Regions from separate parts of the Homo sapiens genome. Here regions 2 and 3 are each linked to region 1. The links come from fine-mapping of genetic effects on gene expression. A gene starts in region 1. Each other region holds a variant in brackets. All regions are shown on one strand. Distances are from middle to middle. Region 1 holds the start of HMGN3-AS1 (HMGN3 antisense RNA 1). Region 2 has its middle 36 kb from the start of LCAL1. Region 3 has its middle 30 kb from the start of LCAL1.

Region 1 (5,233 bases):
CTGACTTTTTCTTTATTTAACTATCAAGTATTTGGCAAATTAATATCTTGAAAGACATCTTCATTATAAATATTATTTTAATGATAAAATTATTAACTTGTAAATTTTTATCTAGCTCTAAGCAATTGGTTTTTATCTTAATTCGTTTCAGTATACTATTGTCATTCACTGAATGCCCAAGAACAGGGAATCTATCAAAAATGATTAAGATCATGTCAAAAGGACACAAGCACTAATTTGAAAGGGTATGCATTGGCTAAAGATGTGGTAATAGGAGCATTAAAAAGGTAATAATAATGATAGCAATACACTGATGCACACCAAATATGTAAAAATCCATGAGTTCATAAAGATGTTCCAAAAAAGAAAGTAATCAACCACCTCTGGAGAGTACTAGATCAATTAATGTATTCTGAAAATTACTAAAGAAAAAGTGAAATATTAAACTTCATTGCTTTTTTAATACATATTTAATACATGATATTTTTAATACATATTTGCAGCCTCTGTGTTACCAAAGTGGATTTGGCCATATTTGTAATGTAAGGCTTCAACACATTTTCCTATGATGTGAGCTTTGCCTGCTAAGATGATTCTGAAACTAACTTTGCCCAATTTTGCTTTTTCTATAATTTCATATGAATGCAATCATTCAGTGTGGTCTTTTGTATTTGACTTCTTTCGTACAGCACTTTGTTTTTGATATTCATCCATGTAGGAAAATTTTTTATTGTTTTTTATTGCTGAATAGTATTCCACTGCATGTGCTCATCACAATTTGCTTACCCATTCACTAGCGCTTTTCCTGCATCTGCTGAAAGGATTGTTTTTCCCCCTTTATTCTATTAATCCTGCCAATTACATTGATTGATTCTCAGATATTAAAAAAGCAGCTTTGCATTCCCAAGATAAGCCCCACAGGTCATGATGTATTGTCCCTTTAAATGTTGTTGAGTTTCATTTACTAAAATTTTGTTCACGACTTTTGTGTCTATGTTTATGAGTGATATTGGTCTGTAACTCTCTTTTGAAGTCTTTCACTGGTTTTGGTATCAGAGTAAATCTGGTCTCATAAAATGAATTCAGAAATATTTTTGCAATGCTCATTTTATGCCTTGCAGAACTTTGAGAAATATTACGCATAAAGTGTAACATGACGGGTGTCATTCAAATATATGTCTCAAATATAAAATAATCAGTTTTTGCCTTGTTCTTTCTTTTCCTAATTTCCGTAACAAACATGTCCTATTCGTCTTCACATCTAGTTTGAAGTTAGCTGAATTAGTGAGTGATTTATAATCACAGATTTCAGAAAATTAGAGCTAAGTGATTTTAGGGACTGTTGTCACTATATATCTAGGGGGGGAAACTGAGGCCTTTAGAAGTTGCCACGCTCTTCCAGTACAGAGTACCTTCCCACGCTTTACAGATTCCCACCATGTAACATTCATTAAAAGCCTTTATGGGTAGGAAATGAATAAGGTACCTGCTGTGTATATATTTACATTATAAAGTTTACGTATTCATTCTTACTCTTTTTCCTTCCTATGAAGACACACACTGTTCTTATTCTTACAATCTCAAAGAGAGAGCAGCGAAACAATGAAACTTCAGGATTGTGTGGCCTGGAGGCTACTAGTTGAACTGGGCATGCTCAGTCGCCAGGCAGATTTTTTTCGGTGAAGTGGAAACTACAACAGCGCGTACCGCGCGCGGAGGTGGGCGTGCCCTCGTGGAATTTAGAACGTTGCCTCAGCCAATGGGGCCTCGCGGCCGGCTGGCGGGGCTCCTCATTGGAGCAGCAGGGAGGCGAGCAGAGGGCCCCCAGAGGGAGCCGCGGAGGTGCAGGTCGAAGAGGCCGGGCTACGTCGTGCCCTGCGCGTGAGCAGCTGCAGAGGCAGAGGCAGCATCCAGCGGCGGCGCCAGCAGTTCCAGTCCGTTGCTTTACTTTTTGCTTCACCGACATAGTCATTATGCCGAAGAGAAAGGTAAGTCTTACCAAAAAAAGATTTCAAAAGCCTTCAAATTCTGCTTACAGTAAATGCTGGCATTGCAATGGCTCGCGCAGAACGCGCGCGGTAGTAACCCGGGGATTGGGAATCTTTGCTCCTCCACGCTTGTTTTTAGATGCCTGTTGCAGACGTTCCTCTCTCTGTCCCCCCTACCCACTCCGTCCTCATCGATCTCTTAATGTTACTTTCTCTCCAGTGACGCGGTTTCCCTTCTTTTTGAACTCATTCTCGCTGGAATGTTTTCCACCCCCAACAACAAGAAGCAAAAGCGGCTTTCCATTCCGAAAGGGAGTTTCCTCTTTGCAAACTGCCAGGTTGCGAATTAGTGTGAAGGGAAAACAGCGAGAGGAGAAAAACAAGTACAAGCGTAAGGAGAGGGAAGAAAATAAATCAGGCAAATGTTGGGATTATTCCCATGCGGCTGTACTCGCGGGCTGGGTGCGCTGCGGTGGCTCCTAGGCTAAGGGAAAGAGAAAGCCATGTTTAAAATAGCGCTCACCCTCCTGCTCGCCTCCGCTGCAGACCCGTATGTACCAACTCCAGTGTCAATCAGGGCTGGGGCCGGCGAGGCGGGGCCTGGCGGCCTGGACCTACCCGCAGTTCGGGGCGGGAGCGGTGGAGTTGGCAGCGTGGAAGACGGGACGGCGCCGGGGCGTCCAATATGGCTCGTCCAAGGTCAGGGGGCCACCAGGTCCTCCCCAGCGACTGGAACCCACACTCGGTTGGGGAAGGCGGGGTCCGCGCGCTATCCGCCCCTCTGCGCGTCTAGCGAACTGGAGTCATTTTTGTCTTGTCTTCCGCCCCTTGCGGACTGTCCTCTTCTGCGCAGGCCCCGGACACCAACTACTACATTCAGGGACACAAATCTCCCTCGGGGTGGGGCTTCGACTTGTCCCGGGGAGGGAAGGGAAAGGTTTCCTCCTCCCTGAGAAATCAGTGAGGATTTCTCAGCTGGTTCCTAAGCAAGTGCTTTGCACCCTCCCACCGCCAGCCTCAGTGTTTCCAACAGTGTCAACGAGTGTGGGTATTAAATTTGAAGCAAAATTACACCTAATGTCTTGCTTTATCAAAGACCATGGACTAATTTGTGTGTGAGAGTGACTGCATTATTTTAAAATACTGAAGTTTTAAAAATTCAAAAGCTTTCCCCTTCTTATATGTTATTACTAAAAATTGGGTAGAAACTTGTCTCCTACCCCACTTTTTAAAAATAATTGAAAGTGTTTAAAAGTCTTAGAGTTTGTTGTGCACATACTGTGTCCCTCACGCTGTGCAGAATTTGACTTGCATTATCTCATTTAATCCTGAAAACAGCTTGAGCGGTGTTACCCCCATTCAGCTGGGACTTAAAGACATAAATTGTCCTGCATCTCACCAACCAATAACTACTAGTAAAGATTTAATCAGATGCTATAGATGCCAAAGTCTTATTCTCACCCATTTCGTACTCACTTACGAAAGGGTGGGTCAAGAGGAATTAAGGAAATCCAAAGGTACTCCCAGTTTAAGAAGACAGATGGCATATTAAGAGCACTAATACTTGAGATTTATTATTTAAACTTAATTTTATGAAGGTATTTTCTAGCCCTGTTTTACTAGAATTAGGATATTAAGTGATGTCACCATTTTCAGCATTTTGACTGAGGGTTAATGATGGATTGGAAATTCTAGTAGAGACAAAGGAACTAATCATCAAGATACGGGTTACAGAGTAAGTGAGCTGGAGGCCATCTTTTTTTCCTGGGAATTATAACCATTGTTTACATAAACAGTAGGTTAGGTGTGCACACTTTATGTATAATGGACCCTGACGATGGAACCCTTCCTTGCTGTTTATTCAAGGGCCAGAGCTGCTGAAACCATTATTCTTACTTCCCCTGTCTGCCTCTCTCAAGGAGACGGAAGGAAAAAAAAAAAAAACTAAAATAACAGTAAAATTACAGCTACAGTTTTATTTCCCTGGAAGGCAGGGAACCCCCATGCATAAGCTAGCCAATGGTCCTGAGACTAGGGGCAAAACTGTGTACAGGCACCTGTGTGTCATTCCTGAGGACATCAGAGTGTTCTCCGGTGATGGAAAACCTCTCCTTGATTAATAGGAAGGCTTTCCATTTATACCTGAAGCCTAACGACCTCAGTTGGTACCTGGGCAGGAACAACCTCAGATTAAACACGGCGATCATGGCCATCCATCTATCAGTCAAGTCTTAGAGCAGCCTCATGGAATCCTGAAGTTCACTGGAACTTATGTGAGGAACCACTGTCATTAGGTAAAGCCTGCTTAGATACAAAAAAGAACTGGAGACAATCCATGCATAGCTCTTCAAGATCTTCAAAGCTGGGGTAACTGCCAAAGCATTTACATACTACACAATATTTTTCTTGACTAAAGAATTGTCTGCTCTACAATATAATAAGCTTTTAAAATGTCCCCCTAGTACTTTTTTGCCTTCTTAGCCCCCTGTATCAACCTTTCCTAGAAATCAAGAAATGTTATTTAATGAACATCTGAGTAAGTTGTTCTGCAGAGCAAGAAGTGGTACAGATAAAGTCAATGAAAACATCTGGAATCCTAGCCCTGTTGTAATGCTGTAGGGACATACAGTTTTTGCCCTCTTGGAACTTGTGTTTAATTCAATGAGGTGATAAGACTAGCAGCACAAAACAGTTGAATAACATTAAAACTGTGTATGTGTTCCAGAATGTGTAGTTATAGATCCCACAAGCAGTAGGACAGATAAGGAAAGTTAACTTTAGGCTGGTCTTAAAAGTGTGGGTAGGACTCAAATATACAAAGAAGTCAGAGTCATTTTTTGTTACCAGGTATTCAAGTGTGTCTCCTGATTGTATCTTAACATGACCAGGCCTCAGTTTTGCAACTTCAGGGCTATAATATCATCTGAATTAATATTAAAATGTTCTGATGACATTTCTTTGTAAGTTTTATGTGTATCTTTGTGTGTGATAGTCATAACTACATTAAGCCAAGTGGTTTTTTATAAATGCCATAGTATTTTGTGAAGTAATACAGCACTTAGTGAAGAGTTCTTCAGTGCATATTATCTCTAAGTTTGTGAGATGTAAATAAAAGTGAGTTTCCTGTATTTTTTAGATAATGGATGGTGGGTGAGTGGAATTACAGGGGAAATGATAACATTCATGGACTCAGTGGTGAGACAATGAGTGATTGAGTTCTAGACTGTTCTGGCCAGACATCCACA
Region 2 (5,233 bases), 43 kb before region 1:
TTTGGCCAGAAACTCTCTGGCCGTCTATCCTTGATGTTTCCTCTTAGTAATTTTCTACCCACTGATCCCACTGTATTCCTTTGCTATAAATCCCAGATTTAGTAAACGTCCCCCTCAGAGCTCTTGCACCATTCTGGACACACTCCTCTCATAGCAAGTACTACTTTATTTGGAATTATCCCCTTATGTATGTGGCTCCTGTTCCACACAATTTTTCATCTTTATATTCCGAATGCTTGTTATATAGTAAATACTCAAGAAATGGTGGTTGAATTTTTAGTGAAGACCAGATGCTCAGTGTGAATAACATTTCCCTGTTCTGTCTGGAAAGTCTGACCAAAAAGAAATTATTGTTTCATTGGACGTAACTGTTCCTAGCAAACTCAAGTCCTAGTGCCCAGTGCTTTTTCTACCTAGAATCAAAGTTTTCTATAAAGCAATACATAAGAAGTAAATATTTAGAATTTTGTAGGCCATATGATAATCTTCTCAACTCTGCTATTGTGGCATGAAAGCAGACATAGACAATGCATAAATAAATTGGCATGGCTTCCTTGGAATGTAACTTTATTAACAAGAATAAGCAATGGGTTGCATTTGGCCTGTGGGCCATAGTTTGCCCAATCCTAATCTAGAAGCTTCCAAACAAACTTTTAAAAAATCCACTATTTCTCTCCCACAGGAGGTCTACATGCTACTACCATATCTCTCATAATCCCTGCTATACTCCAGCAATTTTTGCAAGTGCAGTCAGTACTCTCTCTCTGGCTGTGGAGAGTATCCATGGGCTCGACATCTGAGGATTCAACCAACCTTGCATTAAAAAATACCTGGTAAAAATGGATGGTTGTGTTTACTGAACATGCACAGACATTTTTTCTTGTCATTATTTCCTAAATAATAGAGTGTAACAATTATTTGCATAGCATTTATGTTGTATTAGATATTACAAGTAATCAGGAGATGATTTAAAGTATATGAGAATATGTGCATAGGTTATATACAAATACTACACCATTTTATATAAGGGACTTGAGCATCCAAGGATTTTGGTATCCTCTGGGAGTTCTGAAACCAATACACTGTGCATACCAAGGGACGACTGCACTCAACACCAACATCAATGGATGGCAGAAATTTACCATCAGTACCATTAAGAGTGTGAGATGAAAACATGCTCATGTGTTGTTGGGGAAAACAGAGATTGACCTCATCAAGAGGTTAGAGGATTCACTGAGCATGAAGTGATATGTGTGATCATCATCATGCCAAACCCAGGCCAGTACAAGATCCCAGATTGGTTCTTAAACAGACAGAAGGACGTGAAGGATGGAAATTACAGCTGAGTCCTGGCCAAAGGTCTGGACAACAAGCTCTGTGAAGATCTGCAGCAAATAAAGAAGATTCTTCCCCACCAGAGACCATGCCACTTTTTCTTTCTTTCTTTTCTTCTTTCTTTTTTTTCTTCTTTCTCTATCTCTCTCTCTCCCTTTTTCTCTTTCTCTCTTTCTCTCCTTCTCTTTCTTTCTTTCTTCCTTTCCTTCCTTCCTTCCTTCTTTCTTTCTTTCCTTCCTTCCTACCTTTCTTTCTTTCTTTCTTTCTTCTTTTCTTTCTTTCTTTCTTTCTTTCTTTCTTTCTTTCTTTCTTTCTTTCTTTCTTTCTTTCTTTCCTTCTTCAAGACGTAGGATCTCACTATTGTCCAGGCTGTATTGCAGTGGTGGGATCATAGCTTGCTACAGGCTACAACTCCTAGGACTCAAACAAACCTCCCTCCTCATCCTCCTGAGTAGCTGGGACTACAAGTGTGTGTCATTATGCCTGGCTAATTTTTGTATTTTTTTGTAGAAACAGGGTTTTACCATGTTGCCTAGACAGGTCTTGAACTCCTGGGTTCAAGCGATCCTCCCACCTTGGCCCCCCAAAGTGCTGGGATTACAGGCATGAATGACTGCATCCAGCCAAGACATGATACTTCAGCTTTCATGTCCAAGACTAAGCATACTGAGGCCACTGGCCTCTATGGCCACATCATGTTTGTGTCCCAGAAGAAATAAATCTATAAGCCTTGTCTATCAATAAATAGTTTATATACCTTTAAATATCCAACATCTAGTCACTGATGTTTATTATGCAAAATCTCCCACTTCTTCAAAATGGGAACAGTATTTAACCATGCCCAGTTTCCTGCCACTTCTACCACCCTTTACAGTTCTACATTCTTTCCAGATTAGATCAGCAATGCAATTTGAACATCTTCCACAGAACACTGGGATGCAAGTTATCAGAGTTGGGAAACTATTTAGAATATAATTATGTTCTCCCACTTTGGGCTTCTCTTTCTCTTGCTAAGGAGTCTCTCCTTCCCTCCTACTCCTCTCCCTACTCTCCTCTGCAAAAAGACACAAGTAAAACTGAGGTTGAGGAGCTTGGTTTTTTCTAAGTAATCTTTCAGTAATAGATCACTGCTGACTAAACTACACCCAGTAGGCTGCTGCATCTTTGTTTCTCTTTGTTAAATACACTTTAAAAGTTTTATTTATTGTTCCTCGAATTTTTGCAAACCTGAACATATTTCTATCTCTAAGTTTATGCCACCCCTATTTACTTGCTTTTGGTCCTGTTTCCTTTCTTCATATAACACTCTTTATCCTGTAAGAGGACAGTTTCCTTCGCTGCAGTGGGACCACAGACTATAGAGAATTAGGACCTGGAAACAGAATGTGCAGTTATAGGGGAAAGTATCCAGCTGTGGCTGATGAGGAAGCAAGCCAGCTCATCAGACTTCACTATCTATTAGAATGTGAAGCTTCATGAAGGCAAGGGGTTTTTGTTGTCATTGTTGTTGGTTTTGTCTATTTTATTCACTGTTATATTTCCAGGTCCCAGAACAATGCCTGGCATGCAATAAATATTTGTTGAATGAATGAAAAATGGTTATCAATAGGCAGGGCAACATCCACGTGAAAGGTAAGCCAAAAAAGAGTATTCACCACTACATGACCA[A/C]GTAGGCAGTGCCCAATTATGGGGGATCCAGGACAGGCTACAAGCAGACAGCACTAGAAAAGTCTGCCAGCAGTTAGCAAGGCTTCAGCACTGCTGACATGTTAGGAAAAAAAAGAAAGACTGAGGTTAAGAAGGGTTCAGGCCCAGAGGCCATGGCCAAACCCAATTTTTAGAAGTAGGCCTTATTCCTGAGGCTAGCAGCAAGGCTGTCTTGATGCTGATTTCCAAGTACGCAAAAGCCCCCTAAATTCCTCCTGTCTAACCTGTCTTCTGATTCTAACCTAAAGATTTGAAATGCCATTTCCCAAAAATCTATCAGTCATAGTTTTTCTTTAGAATCAAAAGACGAACTAAAGGCTTTTTGAGAAATTTCTCTGTAATCCTTCCTTTGTGTCCAAGCAGAGCCCCCACACAGTAAAGCACAAAACTGGATTCAAAGATTTAGCTAGCAGCCATGGTAACTAGGGTCCCTGTAGAGTGACCCATGGGTAGTGATGTTTCAGAGCCCTGGGGAGCAGACCAAGTAGGACCTGATTATTTTTTAGAGCGAAACTCTAATTGGCCTATATTTCCTAAGTTTTGCATTTGCTAAGTAAATTTTTAGAGGGTGAGGGTATGTAGAATATAAATATTAAAAACAAAGAATAAAAGAGTTTTTACAGGCAAAGTAACTAGTCAGGTGTCACATTTTCTTGCAATTGACAAACACCACTTCTTGCTTGGAAGGCTGCATCTTTAGTTCCTAACTCAATGCCTGGTAGGAGACAATAAAATGTATTGAATGGGTGAATAAATGAATGAAATAGCTAGTCAATTAAGTTCATTTCACCATGTTTTGTCTATTCCAATTTTTTGTGTCAGAATTGATGATTTGAATGTAACTCAAAGTCTTGAGAGGTGCCTCATTGCTTATTTGACTCAAGGGATCAATCAGTGATAGGGTCCCCTGCTTAAGGAACAACAGAATGCTGCTAAGAGGTCAGGTACAAATATGATGTTCCATTGACTTACAAAGTCATTTTTCTCTACTATATTTTTTAAAGGCCTTGAGTAAAAATCCTTGAAAGAGCTCTTTAAAAAGACTGTGTCATGTACCAATCATATGGCAGTTGAGGTACTTTCAGTGTAGAAAATAGTGAAAATAAACAAAGATTTAAAAATCTACTACAAATTACATAATACTTTTCATCTATAACTTTTAAATCAAAACACAAAAACATTTGTAAAAAAGTAATACACATATGTAAGAGACATACTTATGTTATGATTAAGATCGTAGACTTTGAGATTAAATGACCTGGATTTGAAGACCAGTTTATCCATTTCCTGGTCTCATGATCTTCAGCAATTTGCTTAACCTCTCTGAGACTGAGTTGCCTCACCTGTAAAATGGGGGTCATAATTACACCTACCTCATAGCATTTTTATGAGGATTAAATGAGATAATGTGTGCAAAGGGCTTAGTACAGTACAGAGTATAAGTACAGTAACTATTAACATTTATTCAGCTTATTAACATACATACTTTATGTAAATATTAATTCACTTGTTCTTGCAGTAATTTGGTGACTTCTCAGGCATCTGAAACACACAGATTGAAAAACACTGCTGGATTCAGTAGGAACTGGGACAAAGGGTATCTTCAGAAAGAATAATGGAGACCTGTGTTGTTGCTGAAGGAGATGGAGCTTGGGACTTGGAAGACTGGCAGAGCTGCTTCTCCTTAGGAGCTCTGGCTGCTACTGGAGCAGCCCCAGGAAGGCTCTGTCACTAGGAACAAGAGCTACCACTAACTGAGTTAGTCCCTGGGAGCTGGACACTGCTGCTGACAAGTACTGCCAAGATGGTCCGTGGTGGTCTGCCTCTGGGACCCTGCTGACTACACACAACAATTGAGGCTTACAAAAGAGGAACTAAGAAAATCCAAAGATTTGGAAGTGTCTGACCCTTTCTTCCCTTTATGGCTTCTCACTTGCACAGAAGAATTTCAGCCCAACTCTCCATGCAACATCCAATAGGGGACAAAATACTATGCTCTATCATTACACCCTCATTGAGGAGGGTCAATAATCATTTCTCACCAAGAAAGTAGGAGGTCAGAAAGTGGATGAGGAATCAACCTAGTTTAGAGGATTGATCTAGAATCTTGTCCTCAGGCTTCTAGGGAATTATCTGAGTCTTTTATCTAAGACAAATGCAACAGTTTTCTTTCCAAATGCTCAGAAAAATA
Region 3 (5,233 bases), 110 kb before region 1:
ACTTATGCAGGTAAGTACTACTCATCACAATTGTAAAGACAGGGAAACTGGAGCACAAACGGGTTAGGTAAATTTTCCTGTATATGCTGTGTACGGCACAGCCAGGACTTGACTCCAGTTGATGTGGTATTGGAGCCCCCCTTAATTGCTATGTTCCATTGCACAGCTTTAACCATCACCTCCTGAGACTGAAGCTTTTCTCACACCCTGCTTACAGTCACCAGTGCTCCTAAAAGCAGAACCTTTATTCCAACCATAGAAATGAAAAGCTTCACTTTGAAGAAATGAAATGTACTCTAAAGGTAAATACTATGTTATTTAAACATTCATCTGAAAGCAGTCTGGAAATGAAAGAGTCAACAAGTATTTGAGAAAAACCTAGCGCAAAGAAAACATAAATTCCAACAAAGAGATTTAACTCCCAAGAAAACAGAGTTAACATAGAAAATAGAATAAAATAGCCAAACAAATATCTCTGAAAATCCTATTTTCAGAGATACAAGGGGTTGTGTTCACACATACTACACACAGATTGGAGTTCTTGATTAAAACATGATTACTGAAATTAAAAACAGATTATCTAACAGAATGAACATAAAAGATCAAGTTAGTGAATTGAAAGACTAAGCAATTCTCTCAAGGTATTATGTGAAAGCAAGAGCACAAAAGTACAAGAAAAAATGTTGAAATAGAATCAGAAGTTCTGTGATAGGCAGAATAATGATCCTTCAACGATGTACCACATCCTGCATCCTAATCCCTAGAACCTGTGAATATGTAACCTTACATAACAAAAGTGACTTTGCAGCTGTGAGTAAATTAGGGATCTTGATGTGGGGAGATTATCCTGGATTACTTACACAGGCCCAATGTAAGGACTTATATAAGTAGGATCCCTTATGTAGGGTCCTTATACATGAAAGAGCAAGGAGGATCAGAGGCTTAAAACAATACAGATTTATTATCTTAAAGTTCTGTAGTTCAGAAATCTGAAATGGGTTTCACTGGGATAAAATCAAGGAGTTGGTGGGGCTGCATTCCTTTCTGGAGGATTCTCTAGGGGAGGATCCATTTCCTTGCCCCTTCCAGCTTCTAGAGGCTGCCTCCTTGGCCTTTGGCATCCATCTTCAAAGCTAGCAACAGTGCGTAGAGTTCTCACTTCACATTGTTGACCTCCTCTTTTGACTCCTTTTTCCACATTTATGAACCCTTGGGTCTATCCCAAGAGTCCAAACCAATCTCGCTATTTTAAGATCAGCTGATTAGCAACCTTAGTTTCATCTACTATCTTAAATACCTCTTTGCCACATAATGTAACATATTCATAGGTTCTGGGAATTCGCACATGGACATGTTTAGGGGACCAATATTCTGCCTACTAATCCTGCCCCCTATTCCTAACTTTAAATGCCTCCCAATTTTACAATGTAGATCATTTCAGGCATGCCCAAACTTCTACCTTTAAACTTTCCCATTCCAATATACTCTTGGAAGGTGGGGTTTGGTGGGGGACATAGGGTTGTTTTTTAGTGTACGTAGACAAAAATATATTGGGTGTCCTGCCCAGTGTACTCTTCGGGGTTTTGCAGCCTTTTGTGGGCTTTGAGCTACTTTGCAAGTCTGTAAATTGTAGAAAACTAGAAAGCTGATAATAATGCAAATGACTTTGTTTATAGAAATGCAAATATTGTCTAGGGGAATACAACTGATTACTGCCCTATAGATATTGACCTAATTTGCCAGTTTGTATTCATTTTTCAAGTCTTAGCATGTCTATATATTTGTTTTCTCTTTGAATACTCCTTTGAAATGAGTTGTAACATTTTATTGATTCCCTCATTAATTAATGAGTTAAATAAAATTTTGCCACCCATTCACAATTACACTCCTTTTAAAATTTTTCCTTTAACAGTAAAAATTTTATTATAAATGGATAGTCACTGGAAAATTTTCTTCAACTCAGATGTCCATAGAAATGTAGTTAATTATTTGTTAAAATTTCTCTGATTTCCTTTACAAGAGATCTCACCTACTCACTGGAGATGGAGTGGTGAGCAATCTAATGTTAACCCAATCCAGATTAAAATTTAGTCTTATCCAATAATATAAACTCAGGTTTAACCCAGTCTTTTCCACTCAATCTCTCAGTTTCCCTCTTCTTTTCACTTCTTTTATGTTTATAGAGAACAGGGTAGGATTATAATGACCTAATTACTTCCTTGCTGGATTCTCAGTGGCTCTGCAGACCACTCTAAGTCTTTATTCCATCTTGCACATGGCCTCCAATCTAGAGGTCCATGCTAAAACCTCATTTCTCCCCAGCAGTCTCCATGAGGGGCCCAGTGCTTCTTAACTCAGTGTGGACACCATACTGACACCCAGAGAGGGTTGGGAGAGCCAACTAGACCCTCTTTTGCCATATCACACAATTTGTCTGAGAGGAGAAATGTGG[G/C]ATTTAGGTATTTTTTTTTAATTTTATGACAACTAGAGATGTTTTAAAGTTGCAATTGAAAGAGGAAAAAAAATCTGGAGTTTACACCCAAAAGCGTAAATAATGGTTCCTCTGGACAGTGGAATTATGATGGCTTTCAAAGTTCCTTTTCCTTTTCTATATTTTCTGATTTTTAGTAAAGAATATATAAAACTTTTTGTTTAGGATTGCCCTGGCTATTGGGGCTTTTTTAAATTTTTGGTTCCATATGAATTTTACAGTAGTATTTTTCTATTTCTGTAAAAAAAATGATGCTAGTAATTTGATTGAAAGAGTGTTGAATCTATAGATAGCTTTGGGCATTCTGGCCATTTTTAATGGTGTTGATTCTTCCAAACCATGAGCAGGAAATGTTTTTCTATTTGTTTGTGTCATCTATTATTTTTCTCAGCAGTGTTTTGTAATTCTTTTTGTAGAGATCTTTCACCTCCTTGGTTAGATGTATTCCTAAGTATTTTATATATTTCTTGGTTATTATAAAGAGGACTGAGTTCTTGATTTGACTCTCAGCTTGAAAGTTAGATTGGAAAAAAGAAAATGTGGTAATATACACCATGGGATACTATGCAGCCGTTAAAAAGAATGAAATGATGTCTTTTGCAGCAACATGGCTGCAGCTGGAGGCCATTACCCTAAGTGAATTAGCACAGGAACAGAAAACCAGATACCACATGTTCTCACTTATAGGTGGGAGCTAAACATTGGTTACTCATGGACATACAGATGGCAACAATAGACACTGGGGACAGATAGAGGGCGGAGGTTGGGAGGGAAAGGGTTGAAAACCTACCTATTGAATACCATGCTCATTACCTGGGTGATGGGATCATTTGTACCCCAAACCTCAGCATCATGCAATATATTCTTGTAACAAACCTGCACATGTACCCTCTGAATTGAAAAGTTAAAATTATTTACAAAAAAAGAATAGATGTAACAAATTATTTATAAAAAAGAATATATAAAAGTAATAAAAGTCATTTTAAAGCAAGTTACAAAATTGTGTGAATAATGTGCCTTCAACATGTTAAAAACGTGTATACAAAAAAGACGTAAATAAATTACACTGAGACGTTAACAGTGATTGTTTAAGATTGTGCGCAATGTTTTTGTGTGTATGTATCTATTAAAATGTGGGGATACAACAAAACAGTTTCTGATGTTGGTTGGACTCAGCTGTTTCCAGCCTGGTGCTAATCAGTCTAGACTTCGGTTGGGTAATAGTCCCTTCAGAAATATTGTGTTCCACAGATATCGACTAAATTTCAATGTATTTAATATGGTCAGGCTTTGTGTCCCCACCCAAATCTCATCTTGAATTTTAATTCTCATAATCCTCATAATCCCCACCTGTCAAGGGAGAGACCAGGTGGAGGTAATTGAATCATGGGGATGGTTTTCCCCATGTTGTTCTTGTGATCAGGAGTGAGTTCTCACAAGATCTGGTGGTTTTATAAGGGAGTCTTCCTACTTCACTCGACACTTCTCCTTCCAGCTGCCTTGTGAAAAAGGTGCCTTGCTTTCTCCTTCACCTTCCGCCATGATATTAAGTTTCCTGAAGCCTCCCCAGCCATGCTGAACTGTGAGTCAATTAAGCTTGTTTCCTTTGTAAATTATCCAGTCTTGGGCAGTTCTTTACAGCAGTATGAAAATGGACTAATACAGTATTTATCAAGGTTCTACAAAGGAACAGAACGAATAGCAATGTGTGTGTGTCTGTGTCTGTGTTTATATAGAGAGAGCATCCAAGTCTTGTTTCTTATTTAAGCAAGAATGATCATAGTGTTTCATATTAAAATGGTGTGTATATATATGTAGTCTCTGATGCATATACTTAAGTTGAAGAATGGTCTTTCTAGCCATAGCTTAGTAATAATGTTTTAGTTTTGTTGCCACTGCTGTTGTTTCAGATAAGGAATGGATGTAATAGGGATTTTTCTTCCAAAATGCATTAAGAGATTTTTTTATTGCAAGCCATCCTTCAATTACTGAGCTAGGTCTTACTTAGCCATGATATATCCCTCATTTTAACATGTGTCAGAATTTTGTTATTTAGGTTTTTTGTATCTATGTTCATAACTGAGTTTGGCTTGTGGTTTTCCTTTTTTCTACTACCCTTGTCCAATTAAGGTATGAAGATCATGCTAGCCTTACAGAATAAGGTGAGAAACTTGTCATCATTTTATTTTATATATATTATATATATATATATATATATATATATATATATATATATATAGAGAGAGAGAGAGAGAGAGAGAGAGAGAGAGAGAGAGAGAGAGAGAGAAATTTATTTTTTTAAATTGGCTAACACAATTGTAGGGCTGGAAAGTCCAAATTTTGCAAGGCAGGCCAGCAGGCCAGAGACCCAGGGGAAGAGTTGACATTGCAGCGTCAAGTCCAAAGTCAGTCTGGAGGCAGAATTCATTTTTTCTCAGGGGACCTCAGTGTTGCTCTTAAGGCCTTCAACCAACTGGATGAGGCCTACCTACTTTATGGAGAGTAATCTGCTTTACTCAGTGTCTACTGATTTAAATGTTAATCACATCTTTAAAAAGGCATCCACAGTAAAATCTAGACTGGTGTTCCACTAAACAACTGGACACCATATTCTGTCCAAATTAGCACATAAAATTAACCGTCACAATCCCTATCTTCATAATTCTTTCTTACCTCATTGTAATCTCTCAAAAGATATTCCGCTCCCTTGTTAATGCTAACCCATCCACACGAGCTCTTGAT

The links.
Region 2: its variant is fine-mapped to the expression of HMGN3-AS1 in whole blood (INTERVAL, PIP above 0.99).
Region 3: its variant is fine-mapped to the expression of HMGN3-AS1 in lymphoblastoid cells (GTEx, PIP above 0.99).

Annotation. Positions count from the first base shown.
Region 1 is chr6:79,231,301-79,236,533 of GRCh38, reverse strand. HMGN3-AS1 (HMGN3 antisense RNA 1) reads right to left here and starts at 2,860. Exons shown (of 2, transcript NR_040671.1): 1 at 2,607-2,860; 2 at 1-2,472. HMGN3 (high mobility group nucleosomal binding domain 3) reads left to right here and starts at 1,852. Exons shown (of 7, transcript NM_001201363.2): 1 at 1,852-1,988. The coding sequence starts at 1,974. RefSeq lists enhancers at 1,734-2,523, 2,524-3,314 and a silencer at 2,527-2,576.
Region 2 is chr6:79,274,301-79,279,533 of GRCh38, reverse strand. No RefSeq gene overlaps it. Among named protein-coding and RNA genes, the nearest start is that of LCAL1, 36 kb to the left of the region's middle. The variant A/C (reference allele first, on the strand shown) is at 3,004.
Region 3 is chr6:79,341,266-79,346,498 of GRCh38, reverse strand. No RefSeq gene overlaps it. Among named protein-coding and RNA genes, the nearest start is that of LCAL1, 30 kb to the right of the region's middle. The variant G/C (reference allele first, on the strand shown) is at 2,453.